2 separate regions of the Homo sapiens genome follow, and region 2 is linked to region 1. Evidence: fine-mapped expression QTL. A gene starts in region 1. The other region holds a variant in brackets. All regions are shown on one strand. Distances are between the middles of the regions.

Region 1 (5,386 bases):
TATTATTTTGTGTATGCTTAAAATTTTTCATTAAAAAAATTTTAAATGTTGTCCAAATAATTAATATTTCTATTACACAGTCTAAACAATTTATTTGTTAAGACCATACTCTAAAGATCACTGAAAGACTATGGCTATTGCACAACAAAAATATTTTAATTTTCTTCTAAAAATTATAGTTCAAAGCCTTAAATATTTGTCAATACATGTGTCAAATGCAAAGAATAAAGATTCTGAAAACGCAACTCATTAAAACCATTACTCATCAGGCATTGCTGCTTGATTATTGTTACTGGTAAGATAATCAAGTGAGCAACCAGCACAATTCCTCTGGTCTTTTGTAATATCAGTATTAGAAGCCACCCAACAACGTAATTTACAAAAGTGAACAACACCTACACTCACAGAAAGTTATAACGAAGAAATACCTGAATAAATGAAAGAGTTCTCTAGATGAATTCACTAATGCTGTTTCAGTAACCCACTGAATGCCAAATATTTCCAAGGTATCTTCTTCAAAATTAGTTGGTAAAGGGTCAAGATTCAAAATCAATCTGAAATGAAAATTGTTTCAATCTCATAAAAAGTATACTAAGTACCATAATACGACGGCTCTTTTCTTTACATTATTTGAATCCATATTATACATGACATGTATAAAAAGTCAGAAAATGCCTTGGTACTTTACACATTCAAGATTACAATAGCTAGACTGTATTAAAACGTCAATCTTCTATATTGATAAAATGTACGACTAAAGTGTAATGTAACTTAAGAGGAAAAATCAACAAGAATTCTAAAAAACATATTTCTGCCTGTCTTCACCAGTAGTCTTCAGTTGTAGAATTTCATCCTTTGAGGGGACATTTAATTTTAAAACTGCTAACAGTTATTCTGAGCCATGTCTGGAGAATAGTATCCAACTAATGAAGTTGAGTATTCTATTTAAGATTTCTAACAAGGTACAACTATAAGGTCAACAAAAATAGTTTCCTCACTGAAACTGCCTCAGCAGGTATTACCAAAATATTTCAAGAACAGTTTTACTGTAATATATATGTACCTGCCCAAGGCAAAATAAGTCTATACACTTCTATATGTGCAGGTAGGATTAGAAGGAACAGGGGCAATAAAAAATGTTTGTCTCTCTTAAATATTACTGGAAAGCTCTAGAATATTATCACACTCTTTAGAAGGAAATACTACTGCAAAAGGCTCAGATAGTTAGGAATTCATTTTAAGTAGAAGAAAAATTAGTGCCCAGCTCCCTACAGTAAGGGAACATCAGTTACCAAGGAAGTTTTCCCTAATACCCCAAATACTTTAGATATGCCCTTACCAAGAAGCCAGCAGAACTGATAATCATTTGTACCCTTATGATATACTAAGCTGATTTATAAAACACGACTTGGTGAACACCAAAGTTTAATGGGCTGAAATAACTAACATTCCTAAAAAACTGGTGAATAATCAGATGAGGGAAAATGTCTCTGAGTTTTACCTACCGCTTAAGGGCTCCGCTGCAGAGGTAGGATTCTCCAGAAAAATGTTTTCCTCCTCCTCTGTTGTCAACAGCACAAGAAAAGTAAGGAGGTTTGCACCATTCCGTCCCCAGCTCCAGCTCTAAGCTGTCAGTCAGGAACGTCGATGCAGCAGAACAGTTCTCCATTGTTTACTTCATGTTCTGAAACACTTGGGGTTCGTCGTATCATTAAGGGCTCCAAAGAGAAGGTGTGAAGAGATTCCTGTTGGGGGGGGGGGGGTGGGGCCGAGAGAGTGGGGATTACTTCAGAAAGTTCTCAAGACGTCCGCCAGCAGGAAGGAAAAACAAACGAACAAACCCAGAGGCCAAATTCCCAATTCCCCCTCGCCCTCCGTCCATCAAGGCTGTCAGAACTTAAGACAAAATGCACAACCAACTGGCTGTGGCAGGGACCTCGAAATCCGGCCACTAAGTCGGGCTCTGCAGCCCAGGACAAGGTGAAAAGCAAAGAAATGTCTGCAGGACATAGCGTCCCGGGCTTGCCTAGAACTGCGCCCTCCGCAACGTTTCTAAACCACTCTCCGCCCGTTTCCCAGCAGCAGGGTGGAGAACGCTCCCTCCCCGGCTCGGGGTGGAAATTAGGAAAGCAACCCCTAGGGCCAACCCCGACCCTCCAAGGAGGAGGCGAGACCCACCAGGCCCACGCCTGGCAGCACTCGGGCGGAGAAGGCGGGGTGCCGGTATCCCGCGTACCCGGCTGCAGCAAGGACCCGGGGCGTCGGTTACCCGCGGTGCCTGTCGTACCCGCTCACATTTCCAGCTCCCGAAACCTGCCTCCTGTGACCCAGACCACCAACAGGAATCTTTGGGGTCTAAACCGCAAACAGGCGAAATTCCCGCCACCGCGCGCCCGCGCTCCGGAAAGGCGGGGCCACGGCGCAGCCCTCCCCCGGCTACCAATCGCCTCGCGATATCTGCGCGGAAACAGTCGGAGCCCCACGAATTCTCGCGAGAGTCCGTCAGTCCGGGACGAGGTACTGAGAAACTTTTTTTTTTGTACCTTTAATTGGTGCGTTCGGCTGAAAGGCGGGGCCTGGTAAAAAAAAAAAAACAGAACTGCTGCTGAGGCGGAGGAGAGGACTTAAGGACTATGGGTTTATCCTCTGGCCGGACCAAAGAGAAGATATTTACTCCAGTGAGTGCGAAGTGAGTGCCTCGTTCACACCCACAGTCGCGCCGTCCCCTCTTCCCGCTCTGGGGCCAGCAACTCTTGTTAGAATGCAGATGCCTTTTGTCCATGGACTGTGAGGCAGGCAAGTGCAACAATTAATTTTCTCTGTAACAGATGGAACAAGTAGACAGAAAATTAGTATGGATATGGAAAACTTGGAAAGCACTAACCAACTTGACCTAATTGACGTTTATAGGTGACCAACCCAACAATAGCAGAATACACACTCCTGTCAAGTGCACATGAAACATTCACTAAGCGATACCATATTCCGAGCCATAAAACAAATGTCATCAACTTTAAAAAGATTTAAATCGTACAAAGTGTATAGTCTGATCATAATGGCATTAAACTAGAAATAAAGTAGATACTTGAAATACTCTAAATATTTGGAAATTAAGAATCATACTTCTAACTAACCTGTGAATCAGGAAAAATCACAGGAAAATTAGAAAATACGTTGAATTAAATTAAAATGAAAACACTAAAATTTGTAACAGTACCTGCTTACATTAAAAAGAAGAACTCAATTCAATAAACTTTTGTCTTAAGTAACTAGAAAAAACCCCCAGCATATTGAAACCAAAGCAAGCAAAATGAATGAAATGATAAATAGTAGAAATAAATGGGATGAAATAAATGGAAGGAAATACATGCAAAAGTTGTTTTTCTAAAAGAGCAATATAATTGATAACCCCCCTACCCAAACTGATAAAGAAAATAAACAAATTATCAGTATCAGGAATTAAAAAGGTTTCATCACTATGAAATTTAGTCATTAAAAGGACAAGGATATTAAAAGAACATTATGAACATTTTTATGCCAATAAGCATAGGTGAAATGGACAAATTCCTTAAAAGACGCAAACTGTCAAAAATCAACAAAAGAAGAAAATTTGAGTATCTCTGTATTTATCGTAGTACTCAGAATCTTTGGTTAAGCCTCCCTCCTCTCTCTCTGCACACACACACACACACACACACACACACACACACACACACCACTTCTTACAAGAAAACTTCAGGCCAGGGCAGGCACAGTGGCTTTGGGAGGCTGAAGTAGGTGGATCCCTTGAGACCAGGAGTTCCAGACCAGCCTGGGCAACATGGTGAAACCCTGTCCCTTGTCTCCACAAAAAAAATACAAATATTAGCCAGGCGTGGTGGTGCTCATCTGTAGTCCCAACTACTTAGGGAGGCTGAGGTGAGAGGATCACTTGAGCTGGAGAGTTCGAGGCTGCAGTGAACTGTGAGTGTGCCATTGTACTCCAGCCTGGACAACAGAGCAACACCATTTCTCAAAAGCAACAAAACAAACAAACACTCTCCAGGCCAAATGGCCTTACTATTAAATTCTCCCAAACATTTAAGGAAGGAGTAATACCAATTCTATACTAACTCTTAGAGAAATTAGGAGATTGGATGCTTGTTTTATGAGGCTAGCACCACACTGGTATCGAAACCTGACAAAAGACAATTACAATACAATATCACATGCAAACATAAAAGCAGAAATGTTAGCAAGCAAAATCCAGCAGTACATAAAAAGGATGACATATGATGGCAAGGTGCAGTGGCTCACGCCTGTAATCCCAGCACTTTGGGAGACCAAGGCGGGTGGATCACTTGAGGTCAGGAGTTCAAGACCAGCCTGGCCAACATGGTGAAACCTCGTCTCTACTAAAAATACAAAAATTAGCCGGGTATGGCGCCATGTGCCTGTAGTCCCAGCTACACAGGAGGCTGAGGCAGGAGAATCGCTTGAACCCGGCATGGGGAGGTTGCAGTGAGCCGAGATCGCGCCACTGTACTCCAGAACAAGACTCCGCCTCAGAACAAACAAACAAAAAGGATGACATATGACAAGAAAATTAGATTCATGTTAGGAATGCAAGGTTATTCAAATTTCTACAAGTAATCAGTTCATTATATCAAGTCTATAAAAAGAAAAACTGTCATCTCAATAGACACTGAAAGATCACTTGATAAATTCAACATCTATTCATGATAAAAACTCTCTGCCAACTAAGAATGGAAGAAAACTCCCTACCTTATATGTGATATCTATGACAAACCTGCTATTAATATCATACTTAGTTATAAAAATGTATGTTCTTTTCCTAAGATTGAGAAAAAGGCAATGATGTCCACTTTTTCCACTTCTCTCAACATTTTACTGGAGGTAACTAGTCAATGCAATAAGGAAGATGAAGAAATAAATGTCATATAGATTGAATAAGAAGAAGTAAAACTGTCTTGATTTTCAGATGACATAATTATTCATATAGAAAATCCTAAAAAAATCTCTACAAATATATATAAAAACTATGAGTTCAGCAAGGTGGCGGGGTTCAGTGACACACAAAAATTAATTGTATTTTATAGACATGAAAAGACAATTTGAAAATTAGAGTTTAGAAAACAACACCATTTAATGACATAAACAAGGTTTAAATTTAACAAAATATGCGTCAGATTTTGTTTGCCAAGGATTCCAAAATATTGCTGAAAAAAATTCAAGAATATTCAAGTAAATAGAATGAGATAGCATAATCATAAATTGGAAGACTCAATATTATTAAAAGTTCTTCTGAAGTTTATCTATGGCTTCAAAGGACTGCCAATCAAAATCCTAATCCCAGAGAACTTTCTTTTGTAGAAATTGACAAATG
Region 2 (5,386 bases), 140 kb before region 1:
TGAAAGTGGGAGAAACATGAAGAACCTAAAATGCCTCTGACATTTCAAGGCTAAATAACTTAGGACAATAGTGTATTCCCTGGGTAGAAAATGAAAGCAGGAGGTAGTCTGAGATTTCAGGAGACTCCAACTACAGAGGTTTAGAGATGAATTAGCACTAGGTGGCTCATCACGCCTGTAATCCCAGCACTTTGGGAGGCCGAGGCGGGCGGATCATGAGGTCAGGAGATCGAGCCCAACATGGTGAAACCCCGTCTCTACTAAAAATACAAAAAAAATTAGCCGGGCGTGGTGGCGGGCACCTGTAGTCCCAGCTACTTGGGAGGCTGAGGCAGGAGAATGGCGTGAACCCGGGAGGCAGAGCTTGCAGTGAGCCGAGATCGTGCCACTGCACTCCAGCCTGGGCGACAGAGCAAGACTCTGCCTCAAAACAACAACAACAACAACAACAAAAAAAAAAAAAAAAAAAAAAAGAGAGAGAAAAGCTGGAGTTATCAGTTCACCACTAACAGAATGTTGAGACAAAGCAGATGAAGGGTCGTATCTTACGACTGGGGACAGGAAAGAAGACCATGAAGGTGCTCTCAAGATACAGTGGTCATTTTTGGTCTGGGGACTGGTTCCAGGATCCCCTGTGCATACCATAATCTGCACTTACTCAAGTCCTGCAGTTAACCCTGAGGAACCTGCCTCTACAAAAAGTTGGTCCTCCATATACTCAGATTTTGCATCCCACAAATACTGTATTTTAGATCCACATATAAGTGGACCTGCACAGTTCAAACTTGTGTTGCTCAAGGGTCAACTGTATATGTAGGAAGGAGCAGTACCATTGTGGAAATGATGGGAAGATAAAAGAAAATACAATTGTCACAGAGAGGACAAAGAACATGAGAAAGGAGAACAAACTCAGATTTGACCAAAAGACAATGGCTTGTATTACACTGGTAGAAGCAGCAGCCTCAGAAATTACAGGGTATTTAGGGAAAGTGGCTATTAAAGAAGCAGGTATAAGGGACTCCAAGTCTGGGAATGAAAGAGGGCAAGATTGTAGTAATAAGTGAAGGATCAGTGAAGATTTTAAAAAAAAGGAACTGAGCCATAAATTTTCTTCTTTTTTCAATTTAAAAAAAAGCTTTAAAAAAAGTTACTTATACATAAATACAAAACATATAATACACACACATATTGTTACACACTTTGTTGTTACCATTCTTAAGTACAAATTTTAGTTATTCTTAGTATCTATAGATATATGTCCTAAAGCATGATTCAGTAGCAGCTTTTCCTATCCTTTAAACGTTTTCATACTCTAAGGAGCAAGATTCTCAAAGGTATCTTTATCAATCTCCTTTGGAAAAAAAAAACCCACACACACACACACACACACACACACACACACACACACACAAAAACACATATACACATAAATAACCTCTTTAAAGGCATCACCTTAAATAGATAAAACTCCTTAGTGACTGCTGGAACTTTCCAAGCCATACATTATTTGTTTAGTAAGTCACTATCATGATGAAAAGAAATTCAGTGTTATGAAGTCTATTAAACAGCCTTAAGCTTTCATTTATTCCCTTTGATGAAGCTGATTTGAGAGAAGGACCATTTATATGTTATGAAAATAACAGACACTCCTTTGGATTTCACAGATTATAATTAAGAGAACGCTATTAACTACAGAATACTGATTGCAAAGTATTTCATTTTTAAAGATACTCCTTGAGCCAGAGAAGGGTTGAAATGTTTTCTTGAAGGAAGAGTAGAACCATGATAAAGACTATAATCCCAAGAAGGAAACAAAGTACTTCAAAGTTAGAAAACATGATGTAAGAAAACATTGGAAAGTGGGATCATTCATCTGGGACATATCATTAGAGAAAGATAAAATTGAGAGGTGTTCTTTGCCTTAATTGTGCACGAGTAATAAACTAATCGTGTCTGTACATTTCCCAACAGAATTTGGGCCACCAAATATTTTCACGTACATTATCCCATTGATTCTCACAACAACACTGTCAAATAGTAAAGGGATTCTTCTTTTCTTCTCCATGAAGAAACTAGACTGAGAAAGGTTACGTAACTAGCTCAAGATCATAAAGCAAAGCTGAGTTTGAGACCCAGGTGGGTTCCCAAAACTAGGACTGGAGCTCTTTCAACCAAATAATGCTCAATAGGAAAAGGAGTCAAGGACAAGCTCCAACTGGTAAAACAATCTGGATGAGTTAAGAGTTCAAAAGTTGAGAAACAATGTTGTTAAAGGAAACTAAACAGGTTTCTTGGATAAAATGCTAAGTTATAAGAAGCTCTGGCTAAAGAGCAAGAAGATGGATCAGCTGACTTCTCAGACCACTACTATTGTTACTTTTCTAGAATATTTTTATTTACTCTCCTCTTAAAGTCTCCTTTATTTCCTCCTCCTGATATGATTTTTTTTTTAATGACAACTCCAAAAGAAAGGATGAA[T/TA]AAAAAAAAAATTTGGCAACTCTTGGAACCTAAATATAAACCCTGTTGGCATGTTTACACTTCTTTTTGGATATCAGCTGTATAATCCTTTAGCCAGATTCAGTCTCATTCCTAACACAGTTAAGTGTGCTTTGTAAGGGTTTTCTTTGTTAACTTGCCTCACACATATAAAAAAGAAAAACAAATACACAGTCACATTTCCCAACACCTTTCCCCCACCAAAAACACAGTATAGGGTAGCCAGGTACTTTGAAAAAGTATCATTTTAAAACATAACTATTATTGTAAAAATAAAAAATAAACATGACAAATCAGTCACAAGGCAGGGAGGCAGGAAGTCATACTACAACAAAAAGTCTATGGATGAAGTATCTGCTTAATACTCACACACAGAAAACACTCTCAGAAAATGTTTCTTTAATTTAGTTTAACTAAAATTTCATCAAGGTAGAATGCAGTTTTGTAAAAAGTTCCAAGGATCCTATTACACAGTTGCTAATTAACCTTCAGTTCCTTATTTATACATTTTTTACTTACAGATATAAAAGGAAAAAAAATCCTAGAAATTATTTTAAACAGAACATTATACAATTAATTAAAAGTAGGAATTAGAGTGGAACAATGTGGCTTTAGATACTGATAATTAATAGACAGGATGAATCACAAAATATATTAAGTATTATCATTTTCCAGTCTCTGCATCTCATCTTGTCCCATCTGTCCAAGGTGAGACAAAAGTTTGCTATAGGCTTCCCTGTTTAAGAAAAAAGAAAAGAAAGCAAATATATTAACATTTTCATTATTTTTCATTTCAGTATTTACAAATTAAGTCTGCCCATCATCCATCCATCCATCTATTCAGCCATCCATCCAGCAGGCTTAGCACAACACTTCTTAAAAAGTAATGCTTTATATCTATTGTGAGTAAACCTAGATGTTAAGATGTATTAAAGTATGATTTTTATATATAAAATGTGTGCTAAAAATGACATGTAAAAGTTCATTAACCTTCCGAAATATTATAATGCTCACGGGTAATAAAATGCATTCATGGAATATTATTTAAGGACAATGATGGTATGATTACAATGGGAAGACTTGTATCACAAGCGTAAGTATTAAAACAAAAATTCTGTAACCATAAAATAGACCTGTGTAGCAATTTCAGTATATATCCCATTTTCTTCTTTTAACTTCTTATAAGTAACAAAGTTTGAAAATAAAATATTGTTTCTCCTCCTACATTCTCTAGTACTTCCCTGTATTTGGAAGGTGTTTTAGATGATTTATTGTGCCTAGTAGTTATCTCACTAGTCTAAATACCTGTTCTGTTCAGAATCTTTAGAACCAAACTTCTTATGGGCCTGCATAACCACACAAGGTAGTAGGCCAGAATATTTGTTTTAACAACATACTGCATTAGGGTGGTTCACACACAGCCTCTCTAGTTTTTTCACTCAAATTTGAAGACTGCTCAGAGAAGCCAGATGTGAGACATGTCTGTGCATGAGCTTGTTTTGTGACATGACAATAAACACCATTTCTTCAAGCTACAATTTGAAGTGATTCAATCTTCTCTCCTTAGAAAACCACAGGAGGCTAGCCAAGTCACCATGCAGAAGAAAGGAGATGTTCCATTCTGGCATACAAAAGCTTTACAAGGATGATCTCTCCAGTCCGCACCCCCTGCCTTTTATATGAAATGGCATTGAAAAAATGGATTCCATTAGTTAGCTAAAGCTATAATCAACATAGTCATGTCTTCAAGAAAGATCTCATATATTGTTTAATAAAAAATTTTTGTCTAAAAATTGGAATATGCATATTCATTAGAGTGTGTATTTGTACAGATAAACAGACACACATGCATATGATTATAGTCATGCACTACATTAAAAACATTTTGGTCAATGATGGGCTGCATTTTGGTCAATGATGGATCCCATTAAGATTATAATGGTACTGAAAAATTCCTAATGCCTGGTGATGTTGTAGCCATTGTAATGTCTTAGTGTAATGCCTTACTCGTGTTGTTTGTGGTGATGCAGGTATAAACAAACCTATTGTACTGTCAGTCATATAAAAGTCTAGCACACACAACTATACATAGTATATAATACTTGATAATAAGAAAGAATGTTACTGGTTTATGTATTTACTATACTTTACTTTTTATTGTTATTTTAGAGTGTACTCCTCTTTATACTTATAAAAATAAAAGTTAACTGTAAAACAGACTCAGGCAGGTCCTTCAGGAGGTATTCCAGAAGAAGGCTTCCTTATTGCAGGAGACGACAGCTCCATGTGCGTTACTGACCCTGAAGACCTTCCAGTGAAGTAAGATGTAGAGGTGGAAGACAGTGATGTTGATCATCCTGACCCTGTGTAGGCTCAGGCTAATGCGTGTGTGTCTTCATTTTTTACAAAATAGTTTAAAAATAAAAAATAATTTAAAAATAGAAAAAAGCTTATTCAAGAATATAAAGAAAGAAAATATTTTTGTACAGCTATACAATGTGTGTGTTAAGCTTTTTTACAAGAGTAAAAAAGTTAAAAAAAGAAAAAGTTTAAAAGGTAAAAAAGAGTAAGCTAAGGTTAATGTATTATTGAAAAACTAAAAATTTTAGAAATAACTAATGTACTCTAAATGTATTATGTTTATAATGTCTACTACAATAGTGTACAGTAATGGCCTAGGCCTTCACATTTATCACCACTCACTCGCCGACCCACCCAGAGCAACTACTAGTCCTGCAAGCTGCACTCACGGTAAGTGCCCTATATAGGTATACCATTTTAAAATCTTTGCTACCATATAATTACTGTACTATGTTTTCATATATTTAGATACACAAATACTTACCATAAGTTACAACTGTCTATAGTATTCACTACAGTAACATGTTAT

Evidence for each region. PIP is the estimated chance that this variant, and not a neighbour inherited with it, causes the effect. A credible set is the group of variants that fine-mapping cannot tell apart.
Region 2: its variant is the best candidate, but not a certain one, in a credible set for the expression of MMS22L in whole blood (INTERVAL, PIP 0.52).

The regions. Positions count from the first base shown.
Region 1 is chr6:97,280,809-97,286,194 of GRCh38, forward strand. MMS22L (MMS22 like, DNA repair protein) reads right to left here and starts at 2,408. Exons shown (of 25, transcript NM_001350599.2): 1 at 2,288-2,408; 2 at 1,506-1,745; 3 at 429-554. The coding sequence starts at 1,669. RefSeq lists enhancers at 1,985-2,244, 2,625-2,684.
Region 2 is chr6:97,143,656-97,149,041 of GRCh38, forward strand. MMS22L (MMS22 like, DNA repair protein) reads right to left here. Exons shown (of 25, transcript NM_001350599.2): 25 at 1-3,232. The coding sequence ends at 3,151. Among named protein-coding and RNA genes, the nearest start is that of MMS22L, 140 kb to the right of the region's middle. The variant T/TA (reference allele first, on the strand shown) is at 2,479.